Linked DNA regions of Homo sapiens: region 2 is linked to region 1. Evidence: fine-mapped expression QTL. A gene starts in region 1. The other region holds a variant in brackets. All regions are shown on one strand. Distances are between the middles of the regions.

Region 1 (5,372 bases):
ATCCATCCAATTCAAAATTCAGATATGCATTAAAGAGATAGTACTTTGTTAGTATCTTATGATGTGCACTGCTAATTTCTTTTTTTTTTCTTTTTTTTGAGATGGAGTCTTGCTGTGTCGCCCAAGCTGGAGTGCAGTGGCACGATCTCGGCTCACTGCAACCTCCACCTCCCGGGTTCACGCCATTCTCCTGCCTCAGCCTCCTGAGTAGCTGGGATTACAGGTGCCTGCCACTATGCCCGGCTAATTTTTGTATTTTTAGTAGAGGCGGTTTTGCCATGTTGGTCAGGCTGGTCTCAAACTCCTGACCTCGTGATCTGCCCGCCTTGGCCTCCCAAAGTGCTGGGATTACAGGGTTTTTTTTTGTTTTTTTTTTTTTTTCAGATGAGGCCTCGCTCTGTTGCTCAGGCTGGAGTGCAGTGGCATGATCTTGGCTCACTGAAGCCTCCACCTCCTGGGTTCAAACAATTCTCCTGCCTCAGCCTCCCAAGTAGCTAGGATTACTGGTGTCTGCCACCACGCCCAGATAATTTTTCTATTTTTAGTAGAGACAGGGTTTCGCCATGTTGGCCAGGCTGGTCTTGAACTCCTAACCTCAGGTGATCCGCCTGTCTTGGCCTCCCCAAAGTGCTGGGATTACAGGCATAAACCACCACGCCCAGCCTGATTTCTAATTCTGGTATAGTGGGGTGGCGGAGAGGGTTCGGCTTGGTGGTGACTCCCAGGTTGACACCAGGACCTTGGGAGGAGGTTGAGGGAGCTCCATGTCAGATGGACTCAGATCACAAACACAGTAGGCCCCAGGTCTGCCTGAGGTTCTGAAGTATCCCAGAACAGCGGACAATAGGTTTTTCATCTCTACTAGAAGAAAAACAAGCAAATCTGAACTGCCTCAGCAAGGGAGGTGCTTAAGAAAAATAACATTTTCAAATCAATTGCAGCCAGGGCCACATGCTTGTTCCCTCCTTCCTGGGAGGACTTGCAGAGCTACCAGATCCTTCCTGTCTTGGAGAGGGGGCCATGCTTTCTGGAAGCAGTGATGCTTAAGGAAGCCCACCAGGTGGCCTCAAGTGACATCTGCTGTGCCCACAGCTGCTGCTTTTTTCTTTCTTTCTTTCTTTTCTTTTTTTTTTTCTTTTTTTTTTTTTTTTTGATAGAGATGGGGTTTCACCATGTTGCCCAGGCTGGTCTTGAACTCCTGAGCTCAAGTAATCTGCCTGCCTTGGCCTCCCAAAGTGCTGGGATTACAGGCATGAGCCACCACACCCGGTCCAGGAGCTTCTAAATCAGGAAAAAATCCTTGGACGTAAGGAGCTGGTACCTCTGAGGCTCAGGCTTTCTATGGAAGAACTAATAGGAAGAAATTAAGGGAGATCAAAACAGGGGAGACAAAGGGAGCAGCCCCCAGGGGCAATGGCTTGTGAAGCTAGGGGAGGAAGGGGGGCTTACGTGTGCTTGGGCTTCAGCCTCTGGTCCCCATAGGGAATGAGAGCCACCAACTGCTTCTCCAGCTCTAGAGAGAGAGAAGGTGAGAGGGAGGGCCAAGATGCAACTGTGACAAATATTTACTGTGCCAGCTTCCCAGAAGCACGCCTCCACCCACACCATAGAGCAATGTTAGAAACATGCCACATCTGCCCCAGAGCAGGACTGGAAGCACTGGACTCTGCTACCAAAGTTGGCAGCTCAGCTTTGCCATCTCTAGAATGGAAGTGAGATTTCCACTAATAGGTATGAAGAATCTCTGAAAGTCACCAGCAAATCAGAGATGCCCAGCATCTTTGGAAAGTTCATTTGTAACTTCCTGAACTGAATGAATCCTAGGACACACAGTGTTGCTCAGAAGCACAGTGGCTAGAATCCTTCTTTCCCACAAGGGGCTGGAGAATACAACCAGGGAAGGAGGGCAGGTTTTTGCAGGGAACCCAAGGATAGTTAAGTATCTCCCTGGCCAGCCTGAGACTGGGAGGTCAAGAGCTGGGAGCAGATCTAACCCCATCCAAGGAGACTCAGAGGGGCTGCCCCAGGCCAACAGGCTAAGAACTTTCCCTGGATTCCAGGCTATTTCCAGAGCCTTGGGCCACTCACCTTGGGGAATCTTGCCACTGCCCTGGCAGGTGGGACAAGTCACGAAGCTGGCATCAGCAGTTCCTTCACAAGGCACACAGGAACAAAAAGACTTGCTGCTACCGGTGCTGGAGTAGTTGACAGCCTTGCTGCCAATGGCTGGTTTGGAGGACAGGATTGACTTGTTCTCATCCTCCCGCCAAGAGCCCAGCTGGGAAAACGTCTTACCCATTCTTCAGGGGCGGGGGTTTCACTAATGAGAAAAGACCAAAGTTCAGTGCTAAGCTTGTTAGCACTGACGCCAGATGTAATTTTGGTTTGAAGTTCTCAAGACTGGCAAGGAGCTTCACCACAGTTTAAGCAAGCTCAAGCCTAAGGAAGATAGGATGTGAAAAACTGGGTGGTCACATGGGACTCTCAGAAGTCTCAATGCATTTCGACTCCTTTCATTATTTTAAAAGAGACCAATCTGCCTACAAAAGGGAAAACAAAAGAAAAGCAGAAGTTACTTCACTTTAAGGAACTTCCATAAGTGATTGTCAGAGCATTTAATTTTTCTCTGGAAAAGTTGCTGAGCTGTCATTCAGTTTAAGGGAAGGAAGTTGGATAGGGCAGAAAAGAGATTCTTTGAATCAAGGAGAGAGGAGGCCAGACTGGTCACAGGTGTGGTTAAGACCCCTATCTAAAGAAGCCCTGGGAGAAAGCAGACACCTCACTGCTTTCTGAGGCGGGGTAAGAAAGCCTGAGGAGGGTCATAGTGATACCAGGGTCTGTCTTTCACTAGGAAAACTCAAGGCTAAATCTGGACTCTGTGTGACAGAACGAGGCCGGCAAGTGAGCCACACAGATCTTTCTGGGCTAAAATATAGGGATGCTCACCTTGTTCAGGTCTGGGATCCCAGGCTCCTCAGCCGCACGAGGGCGAGACTTCTGGAGTGCGTCTTTGGGGAGAAGGGCCTCTAAGGGCAGAGTGGGCTGGGCTGGGCTGAGCTGAGCTGGGCGGTGGTGGGGAGAAGCACCGCCTGGGGCCGGCAACCGGCCGGAGTCCTAGGGGAACGAATGTGCCGCACTGGAGAGTGGGGATAGTAAGGACGCTGACCTCCCCGAAGGGCCAAGCCGATTCCTGGGCTACATGGGGGCTCTGCCATGGGCCGACCGGGTGGAAGCGGACGGAGAAGGTGTGACTTCATTAAGGGAGGATTTCAAGTCCCACCACACACCCCTAGAGGCCGTTAGTCAAGCTTGGTACCCGTGCGGGGGGCGCCTGTGTGTTGGGCGAGGAGGCGGCAACAGGAGGTGTCTTGACCTCCGAAAGGTAAAGTAGGTATAAAGGGTCTAGGGAGGGCCTTACCCGCGGACGACTGCAGCGACAGAAACGGAAGAGAGTGGAATCGAAAATGCGGGAGCGAACACTCCCCTCAAGCTTTGACTCAGTGCCCAGGGAAGTCCCGCCCCAGCCCCTAAGGGCCCACCCCCCCGTCCCCCGGTCCGCCCCTTCGCCACGCAGCAGCCTGAGACGCTGCCAGCTCTTCAAACGTTACCCGAGGGCCCGGACGCTGCTTCCGCAAGGACTAGCCAGTCCGGGTAGGAATTTCCAAGAACATTTATTTCACCATTCTTTAGGTGGTTATGTACAAGTACATACATAACCAGGAGAGCAACCCGGGCCCTCCTGGCCCTCGATTATAAAACTCCGATGGTCAAGACAGGTCCCACCCATCAACCCAATTACACCCTGCCGCTCCACCTTCTACCCGGAAGCCCCGATTAAAACGTTTTAAATAATGAACGGCCTGGCTGGCTTGCAGTTTGAATCCTGGTTTATTTAAGTAGCATTCAGGAGTTATACTGTAAATAAACATCATTATGGCTAATGACTAATTAAAATCACCATTCATTACAAATACCAACCAGGTTAGATAATACTATTAACTATCTTTTCCCCTTCGGTCTGGGGTTCATATTCTTCCTTTTCTGGAAGTCATTTTCATGGATAAAATATTTAGCATTTTTTGTTACCTCTTCCTTCACCAACTGTACTCAACACACTTCTGTAAACAGAGTGAGAACCTGGGTTCATGGACAAGCTCTTTTCCACTTATCTTCGGGTTAAACCAAAACTTTTTCAGCAACTTTGCCCCTGTCCAAGTTTTGCAGAACACCAGCTGCCTCTTCCTGTTCTAGGCATTCTAGGGCTAGATACCTGTGAACGGACTTCAAGCATTAAAGAAGTCATCAGCATTTCCTATACCTCACACACACTCATTTGCCCACCCTGAACTTCACTGACATTAATTTAGGAGCCTGCCTTTTGCCTTTCACATGTTTCTATTTCCCCCACTGTACTGTAAAATAAGATCTGCCCTGACATTAAGAAAAAAGGCAACTGTTAAATTTACTTTTCCCTTTAAATAACGGGATTTTTTCCTTTTCTATAAGATTAGCAAAATATTTCACAATACCTATATTTTTTCCCTTAAATAAAAATGTATGCAAAATTACTATAATAGACATTGCTCAATAGGTGCTGGTAGGTTTATCAGCACACTCTTCCTCCTTTCATTGAAATGCGGAGATTCCCTTGAAGTTGGATACTCTTGAATGCACCATGGAGTCTTTAGAAAGCAACGGTGCCAATTATTAAGTATTGCAGGAAAATTACTTTCTCCTTGAGAGAGGAAGAGTAACAACATTTCTATCATGCTCTGGGTGTTATTTCAATGCCAAATAACTATGAAGCTTGAGGTGGATTACAGAAATTATGAGAATAAGAATTATGAGAATAATTCTTAAAAACAACTTCCGAGGTTAATGTCTTTCAAAACCTGAAAATTAACAGATATCCCCATAAAAAATCCACATTAGCCAAAGAAAAATACTCAGTTTCAATAAAAGCAGAAAGAAAAATGGTTCTATATGAAGTTGAAGTTACACTTGTCAATGCACTAAAATAGTTTTATCCAAATCAACTGAAAAACTGTCTTCATACTATTCATCCAATGTCTAAAGTGAAAATTTAAGTTCTGGTCTTTAGTTTGCTCCCCAAAATACTGTAGCAGGTATTGTCTTGGTAACTCAACGATGGGCTCTATACAGATTCATCAGATTAAAAATAAGCAAGGGCTTCTATCCCATACCCCAATGACAGAATAAAGATCATCTCTGAGCAGCAGGCAGTTATTTAATACAAGGTCACTCCTCAATAGCGTTGGCTGTACCAGTCGTTGTTGTTTAACTGAAGAAGTTCTGTCACAACCTGCAGGATATTGTAATTGTGTTTCTTCAGCAGCCGTAGGTTCAGCTGC
Region 2 (5,372 bases), 230 kb after region 1:
GAGGTTGTAACTGTATCTCTACCAAGAGATTTACCTGTCTACCCAGGTCTTACCTAAATAAATACAGTATTAAAGTCAGTCTGGATTCCTGGCATGTTTATCAAAAGGTAGTGAGTAGTAGGAAAAAGCTAGATTACGGCCAGGTGCGGTGGCTCACGCCTGTAATCCCAGCACTTTGGGAGGCCAAGGTGGGCAGATCACCTGAGGTTGGGAGTTCGAGACCAGCCTGACCAACATGGAGAAACCCCATCTCTCCTGAAAATACAAAATTAGCCCAGCATGGTGGCGCCTGCCTATAATCCCAGTTACTTGGGAGGCTGAGGCAGGAGAATTGCTTGAACCCAGGAGGCAGAGGCTGTGTTGAGCTGAGATTGTGCCATTGCACTCCAGCCTGGGCAACAAGAGCAAAACTCCACCTCAAAAACAAAATAAAACAAAACAAAAAAGCTAGATTACATTGTATGATGGGCCCAAGTAGAATTTTTTAAGTGATCAAATGAAGAAATTATTGTTATATTCTTATTTCTATTATTAATTACAATCACCAAAAAGAAATAGCTCAATTATCGTATTACAAAACTTTGGAATCTGTGTTTTCCATGTGTGAGCAAAGAAAGGTTCCTCATAGCAGTAAAATTTCCCTTTGATTTGGGCCAGCAGAGGGATTCTCAGTAAGGCCAAAGGAGAACTGAGCTGAGAGAGGATGCCCTGTGAATGCTGGAAGGGACAAGTTAACCTCGGGCAGTGGTGGAGGTTCCTCTGGGGTCTGCTCACCCGCTGTCTTTCCAACACCACGGACTGTGGCAGCGAGTCATAACTGCCCTCTTGATAGGCAAACGTTTCCAGGTCATCTAGCTGGGTCTTGAGCTGCAGTATCAGTTCTTTCTGCTTCTCCCTTTGGGTTTCCAGACGCTCTTGCTTTTCCTGCTCACTCTAAGGCAAGAAAATAATTGGGTCTATTATGCAGGCAAAGGGAAACTCAGGGCACATTAAGAATCTGCTCGAGCCAGTAATGACCAATAAAATATAAGATGTTTCCAATAATCCAAATGAAATACACAATTCATACGATAGATTCAAAAGTAAGAATAATTATTTCATCCTAGGCAATTTGTCAAATGGGTGTTTTCTTTAAGAAACTATCTGTCCCTCATTGGAAATAGGATATTAATACAATGAGGCTTTTTGTTAAGACTGCCTTTTTTCCCCCAAAGGTCTAGTTAGGGTAGAGACAATCTATCTCAGCCAAGATAGCCTCCCAGGAATTAAGACATGCCATTCTCCACAGCCAGTTACCATAACACAACTCCTGATTACTCTGTGCAGCCAAATTTTGCAAAAGAATCTGGGGTAAGGGTGTGGAGAGAGGCTTTAAAACTCATAACCAGCTGGCCGGGCCCGGTAGCTCACGCCTGTAATCCCAGCACTTTGGGAGGCCGAGGCGGGTGGATCACGAGGTCAGGAGATTGACCATCCTGGCTAACACAGTAAAACCCCGTCTCTACTAAAAATACAAAAAAAAAATTAGCCGGGTGTGGTGGCGGGCGCCTGTAGTCCCAGCTACTTGGGAGGCTGAAGCAGGAGGATGGCGTGAACCCGGGAGGCGGAGCTTGCAGTGAGCAGAGATCGCGCCACTGCACTCCAGCCTTGGTGACAGAGCGAGACTCCGTCTCAAAAAAAAAGAAAAAAACTCATAACCAGCTTTCCTAAGGTTCACCAAAGTCCCTTTGATGTACGATAGACCACTTCTGAAAAATCAAAAGAATCAAACGCACCAGGAGTGGTGTCTCACGCCTGTAACTGCAGCACTCTGGGAGGCCAAGGCAAAAGAATCACTTGAGCCCAGGAGTTCGAGACCACCCTGGGCAACACAGTGAGACTTCATCTCCACAAAAAAATTTTTAAAAATTAGCTGGGCATGGTGGTGCATGCCTGTAGTCCCAGCTACTTGAGTGGCCGAGGCGGGAGGATTGCTTAAGCACAAGAGGTCAAGGCTTCACAAGACCCTGTCTCAAAGAAAAAAAAAATTAGCCAGGCGTGGTGGCATGGTGGTCCCAGTCACACAAGAGGCTGGGACAAGATGATGGCTTGAGTCTAGGAGGTTGAGGCTGCATTGAGCTTTGTTTTCACCACTGCACTCCAGCCTGGGCAATAGGGCAAGACTCTGTCTCAAAAAACCAAAACCAAAAACAAAAGAGTAAAAGGCAAGTGCCTAGGCCAGTGAAAAAAAACCAAAAGCCACATAATGGGGATGTGAAGGTAACAACGTTTTTAAAAAAAAGTATCTGTAAGTTTTGCTGACTAGTGACTCCTTTTTCAACTGTTGGCCACCAGTAGTTTCTGCATTTCAACTAATAAAAATGCTTCAGGGTGGTAAAGTCTTGTCAACGTATTCTCAAACACTGGTTCTTCCTTGTCTTTCTTGAGTCTCAAAAACAAAAAGCAAAACCAGCAAATCATTTGTAGGGGCAAGGCTGCGTCTTAAACTAGAAGTCTACAGCGTATTACATTTAACCTTAAAACGGTACTTACCAAGCCCTGAAGAAGTAAGTAATGAGAGAGAAGAAATGAAAAAAAAAAAAAAAAGAAAACAACAAATTAACTTTTTGTTTAAGTATTTAAAATGCAATCCTCTTGCTTTAACTTTGCTCAACATGAAAGCAAGCCTTTTCTCAGGGCAGTCCCTCTGTAATCCTTTCAGAGCGCAGTTGCATACTGTTAGAACCCTATCCCACTTCCCCATTTGGTGAAGGCCTAGTTCTCCTTTAAGAGGCTTCCTGATTTCCCCAGGCATAACTAAACATTTCCTCTAGAGGTTGTTCACACTTCTAGTCTAGCTCATATCACATTATTTGTTTAGGATTCTGTCTCTTCTAGTCTATGAACTCCTTAAGGACAAAGGTTTTGACTTTGAACCACAAATGCCAGGCACAGTGTCTGGCACAAGATAAGTTCTCAACATGCATTTGTTGTATGTTACTGAACTGAATTAAGGAAAGTATGGCCGAACGCAGTGGCTCATGCCTGTAATCCCAGCACTTTGGGAGGCCAAAGCAGGCAGATCACCTG[A/G]GGTCAGGAGTTCGAGACCAGCCTGGCCAACATGGTGGAACCCCGTCTCTACAAAAACTAGCCCAGTGTGGTGGCACGTGCCTGTAATCCTAGCTACTTGGGAGGCTGAGGCAGGAGAATGGCTTGAACCCAGGAGGCGGAGGTTGGAGTGAGCCAAGACCGCAGCATTGCACTCCAGCCTGGGTGTCACAGCAAGACTCTGTGTCCAAAAAAAAAAAAAAAAAAAAAAAGAAAGAAAGAAAAAGAAAAAGAAAAGAATGACAAATTCCAAATAATGAACTCTGAGTGGAGAAAGTTGTCTAACCAGCCTAAGGAGAAAGAACTGTGGAAAAGTCTTTTGTTTTTGTTCTCACTGTTACCCAACTTTATGTCAGGGAAGAAAGAAATCAGCCATAAATTTTGATTCCATTTTCATGACCAAGTCTGTTGAACTCTGTCACTTGCCATGGTAGCTACGATATGCTATTTGCTGGAGTGTGGGCAAACAAGAGAGAACAATGAGCTCTGGTGCAAAGCAGGAAATAACATAAATCATTTCCAGTATGAAGTAAGATAAGAGAAAATATTGGTTTAAAATATTTGGGGTTGAGGTGGGTGGATCACTTGAGGTCAGGAGTTCGAGACCAGCCTGGCCAACATGGCAAAACCCTGTCTCTACTCAAAATACAAAATTTAGCCGGGGATAGTGGCACATGCCTGCAGTCCCAGCTACTAGGGAGGCTGAGGCAGCAGAACAGCTTGAACCTAGGAGGTGGAGGTTGCAGTGAGCTGAGATCATGCTACTGCACTCCAGCCTGGGTGACAGGGCCAGACTCTGTCTCAAAAAAAAAAAAAAAAAACTGGGGGCCAGGTGCAGTGGCTCATGCCTGTAATCCCAGCACTTAGGGAGGCTAAGGTGGGAGGGTGGCTTGAGCCCAGGAGTCAGAGACCAGCTGAGCAACATAGGGAGAGCCCCACCTCTACAGAAAAAATATATTTTTTAATTAGCTAGTCATGGTAGTGTGCGCCTGTGGTCCCAGCTACTTGGGAGGCTGAGCTGGGAGGATGGATTGAGCCCAGGAGGTTGAGGATGCAGTGAGTTGTGATCATGCTGCTGCACACCAGCCTGGGCAACAGAGTGGAAAATAAAAATTTAGGGCCGGGCACGGTGGCTCACACCTATAATCCCAGCACTTTGGGAGGCCGAGTCGGACAGATTATGAGGTCAGGCGTTCGAGGCCAGGAGTTCGAGACCAGCCTGGCCGACATGGCAAAACCCCATCTCTACTAAAAATACAAAAATTAGCCAGGCGTGGTGACGGGCACCTGTAGTCCCAGCTACTTGGGAAGCTGAGGCAGGAGAATCGCTTGAACCCAGGAGGCGGAGGTTGCTGTGAGCCAAGATGGTGCCACTGCATTCCAGCCTGGGCGACAGAGTGAGACTCTGTCTCAAGAAAAAAAAAAAAATTGGCGGGGTACAGTGGTTCATGCCTGTAATCCAGCACTTTGGGTGGCCAAGGTGGGTGGCTTGCTTGAGCCCAGGAGTTCAAGACCAGCCTGGGCAATATGGTGAAACCTCATCTCTACAAATACAAAAACTAGCTGAGCATGGTGATGCTCGCCTGTGGTCCCAGTTACTCGAGAGGCTGAGGTAGGAGGATCTACTGAGCCTGGGAGTCAAGGCTGCAGTGAGTCCTGATCATGCCAGTGCACTCTAGCCTGGCAACAGAGTGAGACTCTGTCTCAAAAAAAAAAAAAAAAAAAAGGAAAAAGAAAAAAAAAGGTAAGTGGTAAGAAGTAAATCATTCAGTTCAATGATATTCCCTACTCTGGTCCTACCTGTTCACCTGTCAATGTATTCAATGTATAAATACAAGATTACAACTTGTAGGTGGATTGAGCACTACTTTTTTTTTTTTTTTTTAAGGTGGTACAATGTTTCTTTTGCCTTTTTTTTTTGAGACAGGGTCTTGCTCTGTTACTCAGGCTGGAGTGCAGCGGTATGATCATAGCTCTCTGCAGCCTCCAACTCCTGGGCTCAAGTGATCCTCCTCCAGCCTTCGCCTCCCCAAGTGTTGGGATTACAGTCATGAGCCACTGCACACAGTCTTTTTTTTTTTTTCAGTTTTTAATTTTTTGTGTGTTTTTTTTTGAGACAGAGTTTCACTCTTGTTGCCCCAGGCTGGGGTGCGATGGCACGATCTTGGCTCACCGCAACCTCTGCCTCCCAGGTTCAAGCGATTCTCCTGCCTCAGCCTCCCGAGTAGCTGGGATTACAGGAATGTGCCACCATGTCTGGCTAGTTTTTTTTTTTTTTTTTTGTA

Which allele goes with the higher level. Positions count from the first base shown, and alleles are read on the strand shown. Sizes are in standard deviations (SD) of each study's normalised expression.
In carriers of allele G in region 2, the expression in transverse colon of the gene that starts at base 3,466 in region 1 tends to be higher than with A alone (small effect, 0.28 SD a copy in GTEx).

Evidence for each region. PIP is the estimated chance that this variant, and not a neighbour inherited with it, causes the effect.
Region 2: its variant is the best candidate, but not a certain one, in a credible set for the expression of TMEM106A in transverse colon (GTEx, PIP 0.71).

The regions. Positions count from the first base shown.
Region 1 is chr17:43,209,969-43,215,340 of GRCh38, reverse strand. It overlaps TMEM106A (transmembrane protein 106A), which reads right to left and starts at 3,466. Exons shown (of 9, transcript NM_145041.4): 1 at 3,419-3,466; 2 at 2,947-3,114; 3 at 2,089-2,320; 4 at 1,450-1,513. The coding sequence starts at 2,299. NBR1 (NBR1 autophagy cargo receptor) reads right to left here. Exons shown (of 21, transcript NM_005899.5): 21 at 3,653-5,372. The coding sequence ends at 5,267.
Region 2 is chr17:42,982,817-42,988,188 of GRCh38, reverse strand. RUNDC1 (RUN domain containing 1) reads right to left here. Exons shown (of 5, transcript NM_173079.5): 2 at 775-933. Among named protein-coding and RNA genes, the nearest start is that of RUNDC1, 4.9 kb to the right of the region's middle. The variant A/G (reference allele first, on the strand shown) is at 3,070.